Homo sapiens: one gene and its partners. The protein of the gene in region 1 purifies or fractionates together with the protein of each later gene. This does not show direct contact. Each region holds a gene or a part of one and is shown in the gene's direction. Other genes may lie near its edges.

The links.
Region 2: the proteins of ACAD10 (region 1) and TIPRL fractionate together in Homo sapiens (co-fractionation; one large-scale study listed by BioGRID). This does not show direct contact.
Region 3: the proteins of ACAD10 (region 1) and NDUFAF5 purify together in Homo sapiens (co-immunoprecipitation; one large-scale study listed by IntAct). This does not show direct contact.
Region 4: the proteins of ACAD10 (region 1) and OXSR1 fractionate together in Homo sapiens (co-fractionation; one large-scale study listed by BioGRID). This does not show direct contact.

What each region holds. Positions count from the first base shown.
Region 1 is NC_000012.12:111,744,187-111,748,988, forward strand, and holds part of ACAD10 (acyl-CoA dehydrogenase family member 10), read left to right. Parts: intron 1-456; coding exon 457-857; intron 858-1,957; coding exon 1,958-2,098; intron 2,099-2,862; coding exon 2,863-3,000; intron 3,001-3,108; coding exon 3,109-3,199; intron 3,200-4,130; coding exon 4,131-4,289; intron 4,290-4,802.
Region 2 is NC_000001.11:168,188,380-168,193,181, forward strand, and holds part of TIPRL (TIP41-like protein), read left to right. Parts: intron 1-2,989; coding exon 2,990-3,121; intron 3,122-3,828; coding exon of another isoform or gene 3,829-3,849; exon of another isoform or gene 3,850-4,016; intron 4,017-4,802. UniProt on the Homo sapiens protein: May be a allosteric regulator of serine/threonine-protein phosphatase 2A (PP2A). Isoform 1 inhibits catalytic activity of the PP2A(D) core complex in vitro. The PP2A(C):TIPRL complex does not show phosphatase activity.
Region 3 is NC_000020.11:13,787,663-13,792,464, forward strand, and holds part of NDUFAF5 (arginine-hydroxylase NDUFAF5, mitochondrial), read left to right. Parts: intron 1-926; coding exon 927-990; intron 991-4,802. UniProt on the Homo sapiens protein: Arginine hydroxylase that mediates hydroxylation of 'Arg-111' of NDUFS7 and is involved in the assembly of mitochondrial NADH:ubiquinone oxidoreductase complex (complex I, MT-ND1) at early stages. May also have methyltransferase activity.
Region 4 is NC_000003.12:38,223,649-38,228,450, forward strand, and holds part of OXSR1 (serine/threonine-protein kinase OSR1), read left to right. Parts: intron 1-163; coding exon 164-265; intron 266-922; coding exon 923-1,056; intron 1,057-4,802. UniProt on the Homo sapiens protein: Effector serine/threonine-protein kinase component of the WNK-SPAK/OSR1 kinase cascade, which is involved in various processes, such as ion transport, response to hypertonic stress and blood pressure.

The sequences.
Region 1 (4,802 bases):
TCTAGAAGTTGGCTCTTCCTTTAGTCAGTTGTGGCATTGCTGTTATCAATTTTGTAGCAAGGGTGGTCTAGGATGCAGGACTTCTTATAGCCCACTGGCAACGGCAGAGGTGATCTGGGGTGTTACTGATTAAATGTAGTCTTTTAGGAAAGCAGAGATCAAGAGCAGGGAGCAGGCAGACCTAAGTTGGACTCTGGCCCCCAGCCCCCTAACTTCCAGCTCGTCCAAGTCACCTCCTTCTCTAAGACTCAGTTTTCTTGCGTGCAAAGTGCAGGTGAAAGCAGTTGTATTGCTTTGGGGATTCAGTGAGCTATAGTGGCTCTTAGCACAGTGTTTGGTACTTAGCAAGTGCTCAGCAAATGGCAATAGCTGCTGAAGTGACAGTGTCATCACATGTTAACATCCCTATGATGGGTCGTGTGGGAGTAATCACTGTTTTTCTTTGATTCTGCTTAGGGCAAGCAAGCTCCACATATGCGGAACAAACTGGAAAGCTGACCGAATTTGTGTCTAACCTGGCGTGGGATTTCGCAGTCAAAGAAGGGTTCCGGGTTTTCAAAGAGATGCCCTTCACAAATCCGTTAACAAGGTCCTACCACACGTGGGCCAGGCCCCAGTCCCAGTGGTGCCCCACAGGCAGCAGGAGTTATAGCTCCGTTCCAGAAGCTTCCCCAGCTCATACCTCAAGGGGAGGTCTGGTTATCTCTCCAGAGAGCCTCTCTCCACCTGTCAGAGAGCTGTATCACCGGCTGAAGCACTTCATGGAGCAACGTGTGTACCCTGCAGAGCCAGAGCTGCAGAGTCACCAGGCCTCAGCAGCCAGGTGGAGCCCCTCCCCACTGATCGAAGACCTCAAGGTAAAGCAGCCATGGTGAGGTGGTAAGACCCCAATACCATGGCATACCCTCCCCGACCCCACCGGGCTCACCTGAACCATCCCAGGCAGTGAAGATACAGGAGCTCCGAGTTGAATGATCTTTGCTTCCATCGTCTCAGAAAGAGCCAGCTCTTCATGACTCAGTTTCCATCTCTTGCTCTTGCTGTGCCTGTGTCACAGGCAGATGGCTCAGGTGTGACTGCACAGCCCAGGCAGTGGAATGCTTGGCCTTAGAAAGCCAGGGCAGGTTAGGCCTATCTGATGGGTATTTGAATTATGTAAATTTGAAACAGTGCTGTATCAGCTAATAAATCTCTCTCTAGAGAACCCGTAATATCACAGCTAGAGGGCCAGATCCACTGTGAGCTGAGTTTCTGTGTTGTCTCCCAGTGCTGTCACTTCAGCTGATAAACAGAAACACCCGCTGTTCCTTATCACGTGAACCTTGGATTGTGTTAGTTTTGAAATTACTTGAGATCTTCAGGAGCATAATGCAATCATCATCTACTTTTCTTTTTTTCTCTTTTTTTTTGAGACGGAGTCTTGCTCTGTGCAACTTCCGCCTCCCAGGTTCAAGCGATTCTCCTGCCTCAGCCTCCCGAGTAACTGGGATTATAGGCACGTGCCACCATGCCCAGCTAATTTTTGTATTTTTAATGGAGATGGAGTTTCACCATGTTGTTCAGGCTGGTCTTGAACTCCTGACTTTGTGATCCGCCCGCCTCGGCCTCCCAAAGTGCTGGGATTACAGGCGTGAGCCACCATCTCTCTCTTTTTTTTTTTTTTTTTTTTTTTTGAGACAGGGTCTCGCTTTGTCACCCAGGGTGGAATGCAGTGGTGTGGTCATAGCTCACTGCAGTCTCAACCTCCTGGGCTCATGTGATCCTCCCACTTCAGCCTCCTGTGTAGCTGGGACCACAGGCACAGCCACCATGCCCAGCTCCTCATATCATTTTTTTGGGCACACGTGCATGTTTGGTTGTCTGCCTTGTTTCCTCCAATCCCTTTCATTGTTTTCCACGGTTCAAAATAAAATGAAATCTTCCACTGTGGTTTCCTGACTTATTTTCCCCATGATAGGAGAAAGCCAAAGCTGAAGGACTTTGGAACCTTTTCCTACCCTTAGAGGCTGATCCCGAGAAAAAATACGGAGCAGGACTGACCAATGTGGAATATGCACATCTGTGTGAGCTCATGGGCACGTCCCTGTATGCCCCCGAGGTACCTTCTTTAAAGTTTTCCTCAGTGTGTGGGAACATCCTGATCTTCATAAGAACTCAATCCTAAACAGATAAACCAGATTCAGAAGCACTGGCATGAACTTGAACTTTTTTTTTTTTTTGAGATGGAGTCTCGCTCTGTCACCCAGGCTGGAGTGTAGTGGCGAAATCTTGGCGCACTGCAACCCCTGCCTCCTGGGTTCAAGTGGTTCTCCTGCCTCAGCTTCCCAAGTAGCTGGGACTACAGGCATGTGCCACCACACCTGGCTAATTTTTGTATTTTTAGTAGATACAGGGTTTTACCATGTTGGCCAGACTGGTCTCAAACTCCTGACCTCAGGTGATCCACCTACCCTGGCCCCACAAAGTGCTGGGATTACAGGCGTGAGCCACCATGCCCATCCAATTTGAAGCTTGAAATATTAATGTGAGAAGGCCAGGCATGGTGGCTCACACCTGTAATCCCGGTACTTTTGGAGGCCGAAGTGTGGGGGATCACTTGAGGCCAGGAGTTCGACACCAGCGTGTGCAACATAGAACTCTGTATGTACAAAAAAATAAAAAATTAATCGGGTGTGATGGTGCATACCTGTAGTCTCAGCTGCTTGGGAAGCTGAGGCATGGGAGGATGGCTTGAGCTGAGGAAGTCGAGGCTGCAGTGAGCCATGATCGTGCCACGATACTCCAGCCTGGGTGACAGAGCTTGACTCTGTTTTTTTTAGAAGAGGACATGACAGTCATGGTCACGCTCCTTTTCCTTCTCAGGTATGTAACTGCTCTGCGCCTGACACGGGCAACATGGAGCTGCTGGTGAGGTATGGCACCGAAGCGCAGAAGGCTCGCTGGCTGATTCCTCTGCTGGAGGGGAAAGCCCGCTCCTGTTTTGCTATGACCGAGCCCCAGGTACGTCGCCTGGGCTGCCACCCACTTGCCTGGCCCTGTTGTTGTCGGCCCCACAGGGAACACGGGCTGTCTGCTGGCGTCTCTGACTGGAATATGCTCCCCACTCAGGTTGCCTCTTCAGATGCCACCAACATTGAGGCTTCCATCAGAGAGGAGGACAGCTTCTATGTCATAAACGGTCACAAATGGTGGATCACAGGTATTTGGCCTAAAATGCACTTTCCAAATGCACATCAGGGAGTCTGTGCTGTTAGGCGCGTCTCTCAATGCCTGGGAGGAGCCTCTGCTTTTTCAAGTTGACACAAAGGAGATTCTGTCACTTAGCGCCCCCAGCAGAGGCAGCTGGGAGAATAGGAGGGTAATCCGTGGAGCACACTGTTCTCAGAGGTGGCACTTCACAGGGCAGGGACGTCCCCCGGTGCCCACACATGGACGGATGCCTCCCTGCACATGTGACCCCAGGAATCTCTCCACTTCCTGCTGTTCATTCTGCTTTGGGCAGCTCCCCTTCCTTGGTGGCTTCCTGGCTCCTCGATCAGGTGTGTTACATCCTAAGGGCTAATGACAATCCTGACTTTTAGGGATTGTCCAGTGTTACTTTTGCAGGGCCCCTACAAGTAGCCGTGGAGCTTACCTCCCGGAGCCCATACCTCCCTGGACATTAAGAATGAGCATCCCCATTTTGCAAAGGAGGAAACCGCACTCAGACTTAGGTCCCTTGCCTGGGGTATGAGCCCCCAGCCAGCAAGTAGAGAACCCAGAGTCAAAGGTTCACCTGATTCCAAGGCCCGGGCCCAGAGCCGTTATGTGTGCACCACCTGTGGGAGCCGAGCCAGCTGGCAGGGATCAAGTAGCGGTTTTCATCCTCTTGTCTCTAAATTATATTTTCTACTCTATGTGATGCTTTTAAAAACTTGCTCTTATGATGTTGGATTCATTCCTCACTGGGACAAAACCCAATTTGCTCTTATTTCTGGTCAGCAGTCTGCAGATGCTCATCTGATTACATGGAGCCTTAAAGAGCTCTGTCTGCTTCCTTACTGTGCCTTTCTTGGGCCAGGACCACGTGTGTAGAGATTTGATGGCCCTGGTGTCAGATGATGGGGTCTGTCTCTCTCCTTTCCTGGCAGGCATCCTGGATCCTCGTTGCCAACTCTGTGTGTTTATGGGAAAAACAGACCCACATGCACCAAGACACCGGCAGCAGTCTGTGCTCTTGGTTCCCATGGATACCCCAGGGATAAAAATCATCCGGCCTCTGACGGTGTATGGACTGGAAGATGCACCAGGTGAGACCTCCAGGGGCGGGTCACCCCTGGGTGTGGGTCTGGTCCCCAGGAAACACCACTGAGGGGCCCCTGCTCTTGTTCAGGACTTGCCACATCCCACGTCTGAGGGTATGATGACATTTGGAGTCACATGCTCCTGCATTTCATTTCCATACATGAATATCAACCATGCAGGCGGATTTCAGACAGGCATTTATGGATTTTTTTCCCTCTTCTAAACTTAGAAAGTAATCAGGAGTCTGTGACACAGGAAGCCATACAGGGCAGACGCAGGAAGTGGACCCCAAACCTACTCTTCCAGGCCCCAGTGTGAACAGCTGACCTCTAGGCCACAGCCCTGGTTTGGTCCGCTCCCAGTTTGGTTCTCTGCTAATAGTGTTCACATTTTTACTTTCAGTGTTTTCATAGGATCACTACATTGTCACAAACCACTAGGAGCTTCAGCTTAAGGTGGCATTATTATGTTTTTATAAAAGGAATCACAGAATAGTCATTTGCCATTATAAATCAGTG
Region 2 (4,802 bases), on another chromosome or scaffold:
TGTGGGCCTTAGAGTCTCTGTTGCAGCAACTCAGCTGTGCTATCATAGTCTAAATCACTCATAGACAATATATAAATGAATGGGCATGGCTATGCTTTAATAAAACTTTATGGACAGTGAAATTTGAATTTCATGTAATTTTTATGTGTCATGAAATATTTTTCTTTTGATTTTTTTTCTCCAATTATTTAGCCATTATTAGCTTGCAGCCCATAAAAATAGGTAACAGGGCAGATGTGAGCTGCATGTCTTAGTTTGCCTGCCTTGGTCTAGGACCAGAGTTTGAGGTGTACTGGGCCTGCAGATAAGAAGCTCTGAGGCTGGGCACAGTGGCTCATACCTGAATCCCAATACTTTAGGAGGCCGAGGCAGGCGGAACACCTGAGGTCAGGAGTTCGAGACCAGCCTGGCCAACATGGCAAAACCCTGTATCTACTAAAAACACAAAAAAATTAGCCAAGCGTTGTGGCATGTGTGTGTAATCCTCGCTACTTGGGAGGCTGAGGCACAAGAATTGGTTGAACCCAGGAGCTGGAGGTTGCAGTGAACTGAAATGGTGCCACTGCATTCCAGCCTGGGCAACAGAGCGAGACTCTGTCTCAAGAAAAAAAAAAAAAAGTTCTGAAATCACTATAGCTCTTTAGGGTGTCATCTCTGATTTGGGAGGAAGCAGGAAATTCTCCAGGGTCCTTGTCCTTAGTGAGCACTGAGCAGTGATGGCACCAAAAGCTAGCAGAGCCCAGCTTCTTCTCTGGATCAGCCAGTGCTATGCCTCAGGGCAAAAGCCAGCCAAGTACAGACTTACTTTTCTCGGCTCCAGTCTTTCCAGATCTCAGCCCAGTAACTCCATACTGCCTTGGCCATTTGATGCTTTTAGGAAGTTTTTGGGTTTTTTTAGCCAGCTTTTTAAATTGTCTTCATCAAGAAGGTTTGTCTAGATTACTTATTCTGCCAATACTGTTCCATATGTTTTTTATTTTTTTGAGATAGAGTTTCATTCTTGTCGCCCAGGCTGGAGTGCAATGGTGTGATCTCAGCTCACTGCAACCTCTGCCCCGCGGGTTCAAGCGATTCTCCTGCCTCAGCCTCCTGAGTAGCTGGGATTACAGGTGCCTGCCACCACGATCAGCTAGTTTTTGTATTTTTAGTAGAGATGGGGTTTCACCATATTGGCTAGGCTGGTCTCAAACTCCTGACCTCAAGTGATCCGGCCGCCTTGCCTCCCAAAGTGCTGGGATTATAGGCATAAGCCACCGCGCCCAGCCCATATGTTTTATATTTAGCTGGTTATTTTTTTTTTGTTGTATTTTTTAGATCCCTGGGTTCAGAGAGAGATATGTGGAGTTGAGGAAGAGAGCTGAAAAGTATAAAGTTTTAGACATATTTAGCCTTGCAAATGGAGACAATAGCATAAATAAGTTAAATATGATATCTCTAACTCATGCTTTGTTTTTTGACTTTGTCTTTCATTTTATAAGAACAAGTACGTAAATGGAAAAACTGACAGATTCATTTTGACCAATCACTTACTGAAGGCATATGTGAAACATTAATGAAGCAATTTACTAATGAGAAAATTCAGATAATGATTAATTTTGGGGGATTCAGGAGTATCTATAAGGAGGATGTTAAAAATGTGTTCCTCTGAACTAAAATCAAATAAAAAGGACGAAATTTACAAGTGTGTGTATTTAACACTAATTTCAGTTGTGTAACCTTAGGCAGTCCTCGTTGGCAGACCAACTTTTGTTTAACTAGATCATAAACTTAATGTGTGATGCAGGGGACTGGTTATATGCCCTGCCCCTACACTCCAACTCCCTTCCCCTCCCAGTTTTCACCTCAAGAGTGGCCTTATACCTGCTCCGTACACAGTTGGAAGTAAAACTGCTTAGGGCTAAGTGTTATCTCTAAGTGACCATGGAAGAATTATGGACATTTTTTTACCTCCTGGAAATCATATACAAACTGCCACTTTCTTTTCATGGCATCTTTTCCCCCTACATTACTTAACGTTCCCTTAGATTTCCTCCCAAAATCTGTGCAGTCTTGTAAACAACATCCTTTGTAATTTTCTTCTGATTCTTATCTAGTTATCTCAAATTACTCTCCATCTGCTAATTTTGTCCATGAGTCAAAACAAATCACCTAATCATGACGCTTAAGTAAAGCTACATTTACTAAATATCTATGGTTTGACAAGCATTGTTGTGTTTGTTTATGGTAAACCTGTCAAGGAGTAAAACAGCTGAGCATTTTGTAGTGAAATTAGGTGTGGTAGAAAATAGTATCACAATTCATACTTGGGTGCTGCTCAGGAGACACTTGAGTTTAATGAGCTCCTGATATGATCTGCCTTGGGACTGTTGATGCTTTTGTTGGATTACGTGTGTGCATGTCTTAGAGCTACAAAATAATACCTTGAAAAATTGCCAACTTCATTCAAAGCTCTTTGCAATGCTAAGAGTTTCCCTCAGAATTTCTCTACAAGTTCTTGTTTACCTCATTATTTAAAGCACTTTATTTTGTTGTAGGTTTTGGGGAGTTAGGTTGAGCAAATATCTAACATTCTAATGGAAAAATATTTTTTAAGTTCCATATGAATGTCCTAAAAGTGGCTTTCACAGCACAAATGTTCTATGACCTTCTATGATAGCAGTCGTTCATCACACTGACTGATGTTTAGTTGATTAATTTTCTCATAGTCACAACAGAAGTTGATTTTAATATGACTTGCATGAAAAATGATAAATTTTTACTGCTTTTTTTGTGAAGCTATAATATTGGGCATCTGTAATGTCTTCAGTTTTCAGAATCAAGCCATATTCTGATCTTTTATATCTACTAATGACACCCAAATTTAGAACTGTGTGCTCTGGCTATGTAGAAAAGACTGATTGAAAAAGAAAAGAAAAGACTGCTTTCCTGTGTCTCTGTAGCTCCTCAACTTTTTTTTTAATGTGCTCCTCTTTAAAATTTTTTCTTTCAGGTTGTACCTACAACAGATCATATAGATACAGAAAAATTGAAAGCCAGAGAACAGATTAAGTTTTTTGAAGAAGTTCTCCTTTTTGAGGATGAACTTCATGATCATGGAGTTTCAAGCCTGAGTGTGAAGATTGTGAGTATTATTTTTATTTAAAATTAATATTTTTCTTGCATTCTTAACATCAGACAAAAATATGACTCACTTTGAATAACACTGAGCCTGGCCGGGCGCGGTGGCTCACGCCTGTAATCCCAGCACTTTGAGAGGCTGAGGCGGGCTGGATCGCCAGGTCAGGAGACCGAGACCATCCTGGCTAACACAGTGAAACCCCGTCTCTACTAAAAACACAAAAAGTTAGCTGGGCATGGTGGCGGGCGCCTGTAGTCCCAGCTACTCGGGAGGCTGAGGCAGGAGAGTAGCGTGAACCCAAGAGGCGGAGCTTGCAGTGAGCCAGGATCACGCCACTGCACTCCAGCCTGGGCGACAGAGCAAAAAAAAAAAAAAAAAAAAAAGAATAACACTGAGCTTTAACATGATGTCATGTACAATTTCACTTGAATCTAGAGTGTATCTTATTGAATATCCATTATAAAATTCACAAAATATTTGTGTATTCTTAAGGCTTTATTTTAGCAAAGCATTTTTAATAGACCTGCCTGGCCACCTTGTAGTTTATTTGTTTATTATTTAACTCTAATGAAGACTGTGGCTTAATTTTCACATTTTGGATTAAAAATGATGTTGATAGGATCTGCAGACGGCAAGGTGGATGTCATTTTTTAAAATGATCCATGTGTTATGATTTCAGTGCATCATTCAACTACCACTTCAATTTTCAGCCTGGTGGCGGGCACCTGTAGTCCCAGCTACTCGGGAGGCTGAGGCAGGAGAAGCGTGAACCCGGGAGGCGGAGCTTGCAGTGAGCTGAGATCGCACCACTGCACTCCAGCCCTCCAGCCTGGGCGACAGAGCAAGACTCCGTCTCAAAAAAAAAAAATAAAATAAAATAAAAGAAGTAGAAAACACACATAACAAGTATGGTTATTCATATTTCTTTACCACTGCATTATAATTGGGTCTCTAATACTTTCCAGAAATAACTCAACTGAAACTTTTTACTAAATGCCTCATTCTTTAAGACCCAAAGACCCAGCTAAAATACCACCTTTTCTACAAGGCCCTTCACAACTCCGTTACACAGAGTTAAATATCTCTTTTCTATACTCCTTTTTAAAAACCTCTCAATTAGGCCGGGCGCGGTGGCCCATGCCTGTAATCCCAGCACTTTGGGAGGCCGAGGCGGGCGGATCACGAGGTCAGGAGATCGAGACCATGGTGAAACCCCGTCTCTACTAAAAATACAAAAAATTAGCTGGGCGCAGTGGCGGGCGCCTGTAGTCCCAGCTACCCGGGAGGCTGAGGCAGGAGAATGGCGTGAACCCGGAAGGCAGAGCTTGCAGTGAGCCGAGATCGTGCCACTGCACTCCAGCCTGGGCAACAAGCGAGACTCCGTCTCAAAACAAACAAACAAACAAACAAAACAAACAAAAAACCTCTCAATTATAGCATTTGTCATGAGATCTGTCAAAGACAGAGACCCTAACATCAAACATTGTTCTTGGGGCATAATGATTGTGGATGCTGTGATTTAAAGAATGAAAATAATACAAAAGCAGCAACAGATTTGTTTTAAAGTCAAATTTTAGCTACTTGGGAGGCAGAAGCAGGAGGATTGCTTGAGCCCAGGAGGTCAAGGCTACAGTGAGCTATGATGGTGCCACTGCACCCCAGCTTGGGAGACAAAATAATTTTA
Region 3 (4,802 bases), on another chromosome or scaffold:
ATTTTTAACATCCGAAGCCTCTGTACCTAACTGTGCCATATTGCCTGTGTTCATCATCAAGATATAGGGCATTAGGTAAATAAGGTTATCTACCACCAGGGATTCTCCAGCTATGTACTATAATTTTGACAAAGCTTTTTAAAAACAAATTGCAATGGGGCTCTTTTTGTTCCAGTTTTTCAGGAAGAATGTTCTTAGTAGATAAAATTTTAAGTTTTCTTATTATAGGTTTTTTTTTTTAAACCTATGGCCTACAATTAGATGTCTGTACCAATGTAGCATAACATAGTGTATTTAGAGGAGACAGCATGGCATGGAGGATAATAGTTCCAGCTCAGGATTCAGACTGACCGAATTCAAGTGTTGACTGCCCCTTGTTAGTTGAGGCACTTGGTTTGACTTACTTAGCTTCAGACACTTAGCACAGTACTTTGAACCTGGTACGTTTTCAGTAAAAGTTTAACTGTTACTTAAGTTCTTATTTTTTAGTTTAACATTAATACTTAATGGTATTTCACATGATGATTTCTAAGTATTCCACTGCTTCAAGAAGTCTGAGAAATAGGGATAATTATTGATAAGTATGTCAGTTATTTTCAAGTTAATTTACATTAGCTTCTTTGCATTCTTTATCTGGATGTATTATTGAGTTAAAATATCCTCATTAAATCTGTTCTTCGAGTCCACATCATGGAGCCACCTGGTGGAAAGCTGGCTCATCACAAGGTCCTGTGAATAGCTAGCAGACAGACTTGCCTTGTACTGTAGGCTCTGGTATATACAGCTTGTAAGGTGAGGCTGAAAAGGCAGATGATGTAACCTTCTGGAAGTTGTGTTTACTGGAATGATTTTACCTAAGAAAAAATAATTCTTAATTTATAGACTGTGTTATGGACAGAGCATAACCTCTGTGTCTTTTTTTTTAGAAATTTCCCCCTTGCTTTGGATCTTGGTTGTGGAAGAGGTTACATTGCACAATATTTGAATAAGGTATATTTATTCAATGACCTAATTTACTTTGAAAAGTAACATTGGCTAATTTTAAAGAAAGACTTTCCTAATCAGTTTAGCTTGCAACATATTTAGATTTTAATTATATCAGAATTGTTAATTTGTTTTTTTTTTTAAGTGGTAGAATCAATGGTGGTTTTCTCCCTTCTTTAGAATTTTTTTCTTAAAGGGTTTTTCTCTGAATCCATTATATATTATGTTTCTACCGATAATTTATTTGAATCTATAGAAGATATATTTCTCTTTGTTCACATTTTTTTATAATTACCATAAAAATCAGATTGGCATTCATACAGAAAATGTGACTTTTAGCTAGAAAAATATTAATTTTATCAGTTGATTAGAAATCTTTCTGTATCATTAAATATAAGTAGCTTTATTAATGCTTATAACATTGTATTTTGCACTTTATAATTCAGACCATGAAGACATTAATTTATTCTTTTAGCTCCTATCTATACGATATTGTGCTGGACACAAAGATGAAAGTGGAATTTCTTTTTTTTTCTGAGATGGAGTCTCACTCTGTTGCCCAGGCTGGAGTACAGTGGCACGATCTCGGCTCACTGCAACCTCTGCCTCCCGGGTTTGAACGATTCTCCTGCCGCAGCCTCCCAAGTAGCTGGGATTATGGGGGTGCACCACTATGCCCTGCTAATTTTTGTATTTTTGGTAGAGATGGGGTTTCACCATGTTGGCAAGGCCGGTCTTGAACTCCTGCCCTCAGGTGATCCGCCTGTCTCGGCATCCCAAAGCGCTGGGATGACAGGCGTGAGCTACTGCGCCCAGCCTTAAAGTGGAATTTCTTTTTTTTTTTTTTGAGACAGAGTCTCGCTCTGTTGCCCAGGCTGGAGTGCAGTGGTGCAATCTCAGCTCACTGCAAGCTTTGCCTTCCAGGTTCATGCCATTCTCCTGCCTCAGCCTCCCGAGTACCTGGGTCTACAGGTGCCCGCCACCACGCCTGGCTAATTTTTTGTATTTTTTAGTAGAGACGGGGTTTCACCGTGTTAGCCAGGATGGTCTTGATCTCCTGACCTCATGATCTGTCCGCCTTGGCCTCCCAAAGTGCTGGGATTACAGGCGTGAGCCACCATGCCCAGCCTCATAAAGTGGAATTTCTACGTAAAATCTGCTTAGATAAAACCATAGACTTGGGCCAGGGTGAGGAAGGGAGTGGTGGGGCTCCTAAAACACTATTATTGGTAATAGTAAATGCCATAGAAATGGTGCAGTCATTAAAGTGCAACAGGAATTAGGGGAAAAGAAAAAATCAGTAGGAGTTCATGTGGTCAAGGATTCTCAGGGGGCACAGAATCTGACCTGGGATTTGAAAGAATTTGAGTTGGTGGTTCCTAGCATTGGAAATCAGGGCATGGCAGGAGGAAAGGCACAGAGGTAGAATGCTGTAGGGTGTGATATAGTGATGTTTAAGGAAGATTAATCTGGGGATGGCATTCGAGAAAGATTGAAGAAGAGAAAGGGTAGAGAAACCCATCAGAAGGCTGTGTTAAAGGCATTGCAGGCATGAGAAATAAAGGCCTGCCACCCATGCAGAGCCAGCACATATAAATGATGGGATGTATGAGAGAGACCTGGAAGTATCAACAGAACTTGATGACTGATCAGATATGGTAGGCAGAGCAAATCTATTCTTTTAGTAACTCAACGCCAAAAAACATTTTTATTGATTCCTCTTATATCCTTCTCTCCCACATCTAATCCGTCAGCAGCTTTTATTTGCATTTCAAAATATAACCAAACTCTTATGTCTTCTTGCCACCTTCCCCATCACCGTGCTGTTCAGCTATCATCGCCCCTTGCCTAGATTATTGCAGTAGCCTCCTATTGGTCTCCCTGCTTTACCTTTGTCCCTGACAGTCTGTTGTCATGGCAAAGTATCCTCGTAAAACACAAATCAAATCATTGTCAGTCCTCTGCCCAGAACTGTTAGTTTGTCATCTAGTTTAGTAGTAATCCAGAGTCCTAATCTATAAGACCCTCAGGATTCTGTTTTTTTATCATGTCTCTGATCCCATCTTCTTCCTTTCACTCCCAACTTTTCAGCAACCCTGGCCTCCTTGCAGTCTCTCAAACAGGCCAGAGCTTTGCTCTATGCTCTTCCCCAAGGTATCTGTGTGTCTTAGTTGCTCACCTGTCAGATCTTTACTCAGCTGACTTCATCAAAGATTCCTCCCGTGACTGCTTTAGAAAATAGTGCCCCTGCTTTCTGCCGACTAGTTGCTTTATTTGCTTCCATAGCACTTACAAGCTCCTGATGTATGTTTATTTGGTGTCTTTCTTCTCTTACTGGATTTGCTCATTTTTGATCACTACTAAATCCTAGTACCTAAATCACAATGAGTATTTATTAAATGACTATTGCAAGATAACTTTAGAGTTTAAGTTACACCTTTTGTGACTGGAAAATTCAGGGGATGTGATGTGGCAAGGAGCACGGGATCATTCCTGTTTTAGATATGTTGAGTTTGAGATGGCAGTGGAATATGGTAGTATAAATAGCTGGCAGGTAGTTGGAAATGTGGAACTGGAATTGGGATATTGAGGTTAAGAGCATTGACTTGAAGTCAGGGCTTCAAACTTCAGCTCTGCCACTGTCTGTGTATACTCAGACCTTGGGCCAATCAATTGCTCTAGACCTCAGTTTCTATAAAATATGATCAATAATACCCATCTCAAAAGGTTGGTAAGGGGATTAAGTGAGGCAAAGTAAACCTGTCAAAGGAGGCTATAGTTCTTATTTGGAAGTCCCTTTCAGAAGTGACAATTGAAGCCGTAGAAATAGGTAAACTCTCTGAGGCAAGAATATAGAAAAGAACCTTCTGCAATTGTACTTAGGGTTGGGAGAAAGAGGAAGAGCCAATAAAGATGCCAGGAATAGTAAGATGGAAAGTGTCTTAGTAAGGTATCTTTTGATTGTTGAAAGCAAAAATGTGCTGAAGCCAGTTTAAACACAGAGACATTTGTTACAGAGAGGCTCTTATGTAACTCAGGGATCCAGAAATAGAGCCAGGCCTCACAAGAGATGGGAACTTTGAAACACCATAACAATGTTCCTCCTGTTCGCATGCACTCTGGTACTACATGAATGCTGTCTGGTTGCCTTCATTCTTTTTACTCCCTGTAGTCTATCCATAGTAGTGTTCATCAGTGTGTGTGGCCCCATATGAATATGCTACACCCAAGGGTAGCTGAAGCTAGCTTAGGCCAGCCTGTGAGAGCCAATTGTTAGCATCTCTTCCCAACCTCTGTTCTGTGACATCATATTGATAGCTTGACATCAGCCCTGGTGGGAATATTTATACCATGGAAGTTGGCAAATGCTACAAAGCAGTCCCCAACCAAGAGCCAGCACACCACTGCCTATACCCTGAAGTCTAAATGTTCTTCCAACTCCAGGGACCTCTGCTATTATCTCGAAGTCTCTTAGTTCAAATTTTCAAGTGAGAGACAGGGATAGATAATCCTGTCCATCTAATTCTTCACCCCTCACAGGAGTGTGCTGGAGCTGGCTCATGAGAGCTATTGAGCACTCTTCCCAGCTCCATATTTAGCAACATCATGTTGGTAGCATGAAATCTTTCCAAGTTTCAGACAGGGAAGTGGGTGTGGGTAAAGTAAAAAAGGATTGGCTTCTCTAATAGAGAAGGGCAGCCAGAGTAGAAGCTTCTGAAGAAGCTTCTAGTAGGCTGTTGACAATGCTGTGCTTCAAAGAGGTCAGGTGAAGCAGGACTGAGAGCAGTGAGCACAGACTGCAGATAGTGTTAGCAGAG
Region 4 (4,802 bases), on another chromosome or scaffold:
CATGTTGGTCAGGCCGGTCTTGAACTCCCAACCTCAGGTGATTCGCCTGCCTCAGCCTCCCAAAGTGCTGGGATTACAGGTGTGAGCCTCCACCCTGGCCAGAAGCTAACTTTTAAAAGTCCTTTTATGCTGGTAAAAATAATCATGCAAATCTGTTTTGCAGGTCCGTGGTTATGATTTCAAAGCTGATATTTGGAGTTTTGGAATTACAGCAATTGAATTGGCTACAGGGGCGGCTCCTTATCATAAATATCCACCAATGAAGGTGAGGCTTGTATTCCAAATACTACCCCAGCTCAAGTCCCAATTCCTTTTCAGAGCCATTTGCCAGTCTTTTAATTTTTTTTTTATTGTGGTAAAATACACATAACATAAAATTGACCATCATCTTTAACCATTTTGAATATATAGTTCAATGGTATTAAATGCGTTCATCACGTTGTGCAGTTGTCACCACCATCTGTATCCAAACTCTTCATTTTAAAACTGGAACTCTATACCCATTAAATAGTAACTCTTGATTCCCATTCTTAGCCCCTTGGCAATCACTTTTTGTCTCTATGATTTTGACTACTCTCAATACCTCATATAAGTAGAATCACACAGTGTTTATCTTTGCATGGCTAGCGTAATGTCCCCAAGTTTCATCCATGTTGTAGCATGTTGAAGAATTTTCTTGCTTTTTAAGGCTGAATAATATCCATTGCGTGTGTGTGTTGAGAAGCTAACCATCTACAGCAGATTATTTACGTGAAATACACGTAATAACTCTGGGTTTTAAACAACTGATTCAGATATGAACTTACAGAAAATAAAATGTTTGTATGTTGGTCGGGGGGTGCCTGTATTGAAAAATCTTGACCACAATAGTTAAACTTTACTGAGTCATCACAAGTTTATAGTATATTGAAAATTCTTGCAGGTTTTAATGCTGACACTGCAGAACGATCCTCCTTCTTTGGAAACTGGTGTTCAAGATAAAGAAATGCTGAAAAAATATGGAAAATCATTTAGAAAAATGATTTCATTGTGCCTTCAAAAAGATCCAGAAAAAAGGTAAAATATGAGAAAAAGTCTACTTTTCTCTCTAATAAAACATTGTGAGAAGTCTAAGAATCACATACTCATATGTACAGGAAATTATTTTCAAAAGAACTAAATATAAACTTTAAAAAAGTATACAGAGACCATTATACTGGATTGGAAATGAATTGATTTCTGCCTTCTTTGTAGTATACAGTGTACCCTAAATAGTTCAGCTTTTTCCTTGTTAATTTCTTACAAAGTTGTACATTGTGAATTCTGTATTAATAAATGCCAAGTTAGTGGAGAGATTTGTTTTTAATTTGCATTTAAAATTTATAAATGAATGTCTTAATGCCATTTACAGTATTAATAAAGGAAAGACACATAGAAAATTTATATTTAGTGTAATAATCATACTTATTTCCATGTTAGAAAGATATTTTAGTAAGTGGACCAAAAATTCAAATAGCTTCCTTATCAATGTTAGACAGATTGAATGACAAGTGAGCAAATAAATAAGAACATCCGATATGTGTAACTTCATGAATTAAGCAGAATCGTAGAATGTTGGGGATCATTGAGTACAACCTTTTATTTTTGAGGTCACTTGATACTTAGTCATAGGAGTAGGACTTGAATCTCAAAGTCCTGATTCCTAACTTAGGGCTCTGTTCCTTCTGAATCTTATCTGTCTGTTTCACATATATATTCCACTCAGCTTCTTAGCACTGAGTTCTTTAATTTTTGTTTCTCTAAAGATCATTAAAAGGGAAAGACTTTGATGTTCTTGATCACATCTCTAGTGTATGTAATAGGGTTTCAGAATTTATTGTTGGAAATATTGGAAAGGGTAAGAAAAACAGGTAGCAAAATTTATACCTGTGTTTTTATAATTTTTTTTTTTCTGTTTCTGAGTAAACAGTTAAAAAAGACAGGAAACACTTTTCTTTTATCAAATTAGTTGGTTAAAGGAACAAAATTATCCTGTTACAAATACCTAGAAATGCCAGATAAAATCTATCCAACTTAAAGATTCTCAGATGCCAGAAATAATGAGGAAGCCCTAAGTTAAAGAAGAAATATTGTGAACTAATCCCATGGCTGTTTTCAGTGGGTCACTATTCATTCTGGTAACCTACTGATTTGGATTTATAACTCCCATGTGAAAACTGGAAGTGAGATCTTGGGTCCACCCAGTGGGGAGTTTGAACTGAGATTCTTCTTAAAGCTAAGAACTTCAGATGTCAGTATCCTTAGTAAAAGGATAGACAAGAATAAAAATTGTCATCACCAAGAGACAACAAAAACCTCTCCTGAATAATCAAGCCCTTCAACCTGGACATTCCACAGGTTTAGAGTCTATACTCCCTATGTTATCCAGGAACCCACAGGATTAGAAAGTTAAAAAAGCTTTACCAAATCAGTTTTTATTTTTGACGGAAGTAGTCACAGAGCTGCACTGGAAGAACACTTTCAAACTCTAGCTCCCATTGGATTCCTGAACATAATGCCCCACTGTAATAAGGTCACAATCCAAAATTAAGAAACACACAGTGAAACAATGCATTATGAACTAGTTAGCAGACACAAGCAGAAGGATTAGTGCTCCAGAAGATTTAGGTAATGCAGTGAAAATCTGAAAAGATACAAAATTAAGTATATTGAAAATAATTAAAATTAGAAGAAATCAGACCCACAAGAGAAGACTGTGACTATGACAGAAGAACCAAATAGCAATGCCAGAAATGAAAAATACAGTGATTAATGTTTAAAACTTTCCATGAGTGTGAGCTGGACTTGTTGACTCACTTCTGATGAGTAGAGTATGAAAAAGGAAAAATAGCAACTTTACAATGCACCTCCTCTACCCAATGACCAAGGTTAACATCACTATTAATAATACATTGATAAGACTGATATGTGCCTCTTGATATGGTGCAATGAGAAGGGCATATATATAACCTGTGAGGTATTCTTCCTCCAAATCCGTAACTTCGGTCTATAATGAGAAAACATCAGACAAACCCAAATCGAGGAATATGCAGCAAGATACCTGACCAGCACTCTTCAAAACTGTCAAGGAAGAGAGACTAAGAAACTGTCACAGATTGGAGGAAATTAAGAAGACGTGAAGACGGAAAGCAAGAGTATCCTATACTAGATCCTGGGACAGAAAAAGGACATTAGTGGAAAAACTGGAGAAATGGAATGAAGTCTGTAGTTTAGTTAATAGTATTGTACCAGTGTTGATATTTTAGTTGATTTCTTTATTATTATACTGTGGTTATGTAAAAGGTTCACAATAGCAGAAGGTGGTGAATGGCATGTAGGAACTCTGTACTAGCTTTGCAGCTCTTCTGTAAGTCTAAAATTATTATAAAACTTTAAGAAAACTGGAAGCTATAGAAAATCTATTCCAGTTTGTAAACCAAAATTAAACTTTGTTTAGAACATTGCTAAGTTAAAATAACACGCACAATGGACTGGTTAAACAGAACAACCAATAAAACAAAAAAGAGATTATTTACTCATCAAGTACCAGGCACTGTGGTAAACACTTAACATATATTGTTTAATTCTCACAGTAATCCTTTGAGGATAGCACTGTTATTTTCTTTATTTTACAAATGAAGAAACTGAATCACAGAGAGGTTAAGTAACCTTCTCCAAAGTCACACAGCTAATAAATGGTGGAATCAGAATTCTGACCCATGCAATTGGACTAGAGTTAACCTGTTTTAATCAGACTACACTATACTGAGGAAATTGCTCAGAATGTGGCACAGAAAGATCAAAGAGGGAATATGAAAGAAATATTAACATTTGGAGGGTAGACTGAGAAGGTTCAGTATGTTTGTGTGTATGCACATCCACACACACACACACACACACACACACACACACACACACACAAATGTACGTATACATATACATGAACTTACCAGGAAAGACTAGAGAGAGTATAGGAGAAGCGATATTCAAAGAAATAATGGCTGAGAATTTTCGAGAGTTGATGAAAGACCTATATTCTCAGAGTAAAGAACCATCCCCCCAGAATTCCAAGCAGTGTCCCCCTTCTTCCACTTGTACAAGTTGCTGTGAAACTACTGGACACGAAGCAAAGACAAACTCCTACAGGCAACCTCGGGGAACAGATTACCTACTGAGGATTAGCAGGTAGACTTGACAGCTACTTCCCCAATAACACAACAGTTGAGGCCAGCGTTTAGTGAAATGCTCAGAGAAAATGCAGTCATGTGTCACTTAAAATGATGAGGATACATTCTGTAATATGTGTATTAGGCAGTTTTGTCATTGTTTGAACATCGTGGAGTGTACTTACACAAACTTTGATGGTACAGCCTACTGCATGCCTAGGCTATTTAGTGTAGCCTGTTGCTCTGACTACTGTCAGATACACAGTATATTGTTGGCCAAAGCATTAAGAGGCTCATGACTGTGACTTTAACCCAGAGTTCTCCAGCTAGTCAGACTATCATTCAAGAATGAGCATGAAATTATTTTGCACACAGAAATTGAGTTTTCCAGTCACGTTCTGTCACTTAAAGAACCCATAAGTTGTACTTTAGAAAGAAGGAAATGAAGTCAGAAGAAAGGAATGAATAATAAGAAGCAATGTTGAGCAATCACATTGTTGAGCATATTGAGAAGCAATTGTTGAGCATATGAAAAAATAAGAGTGATAATGTAGGATTTCAGTTTGCATAGCACTTTCACATTTATTCAGCTTTTTAATCTTTATAATAATCATCTGA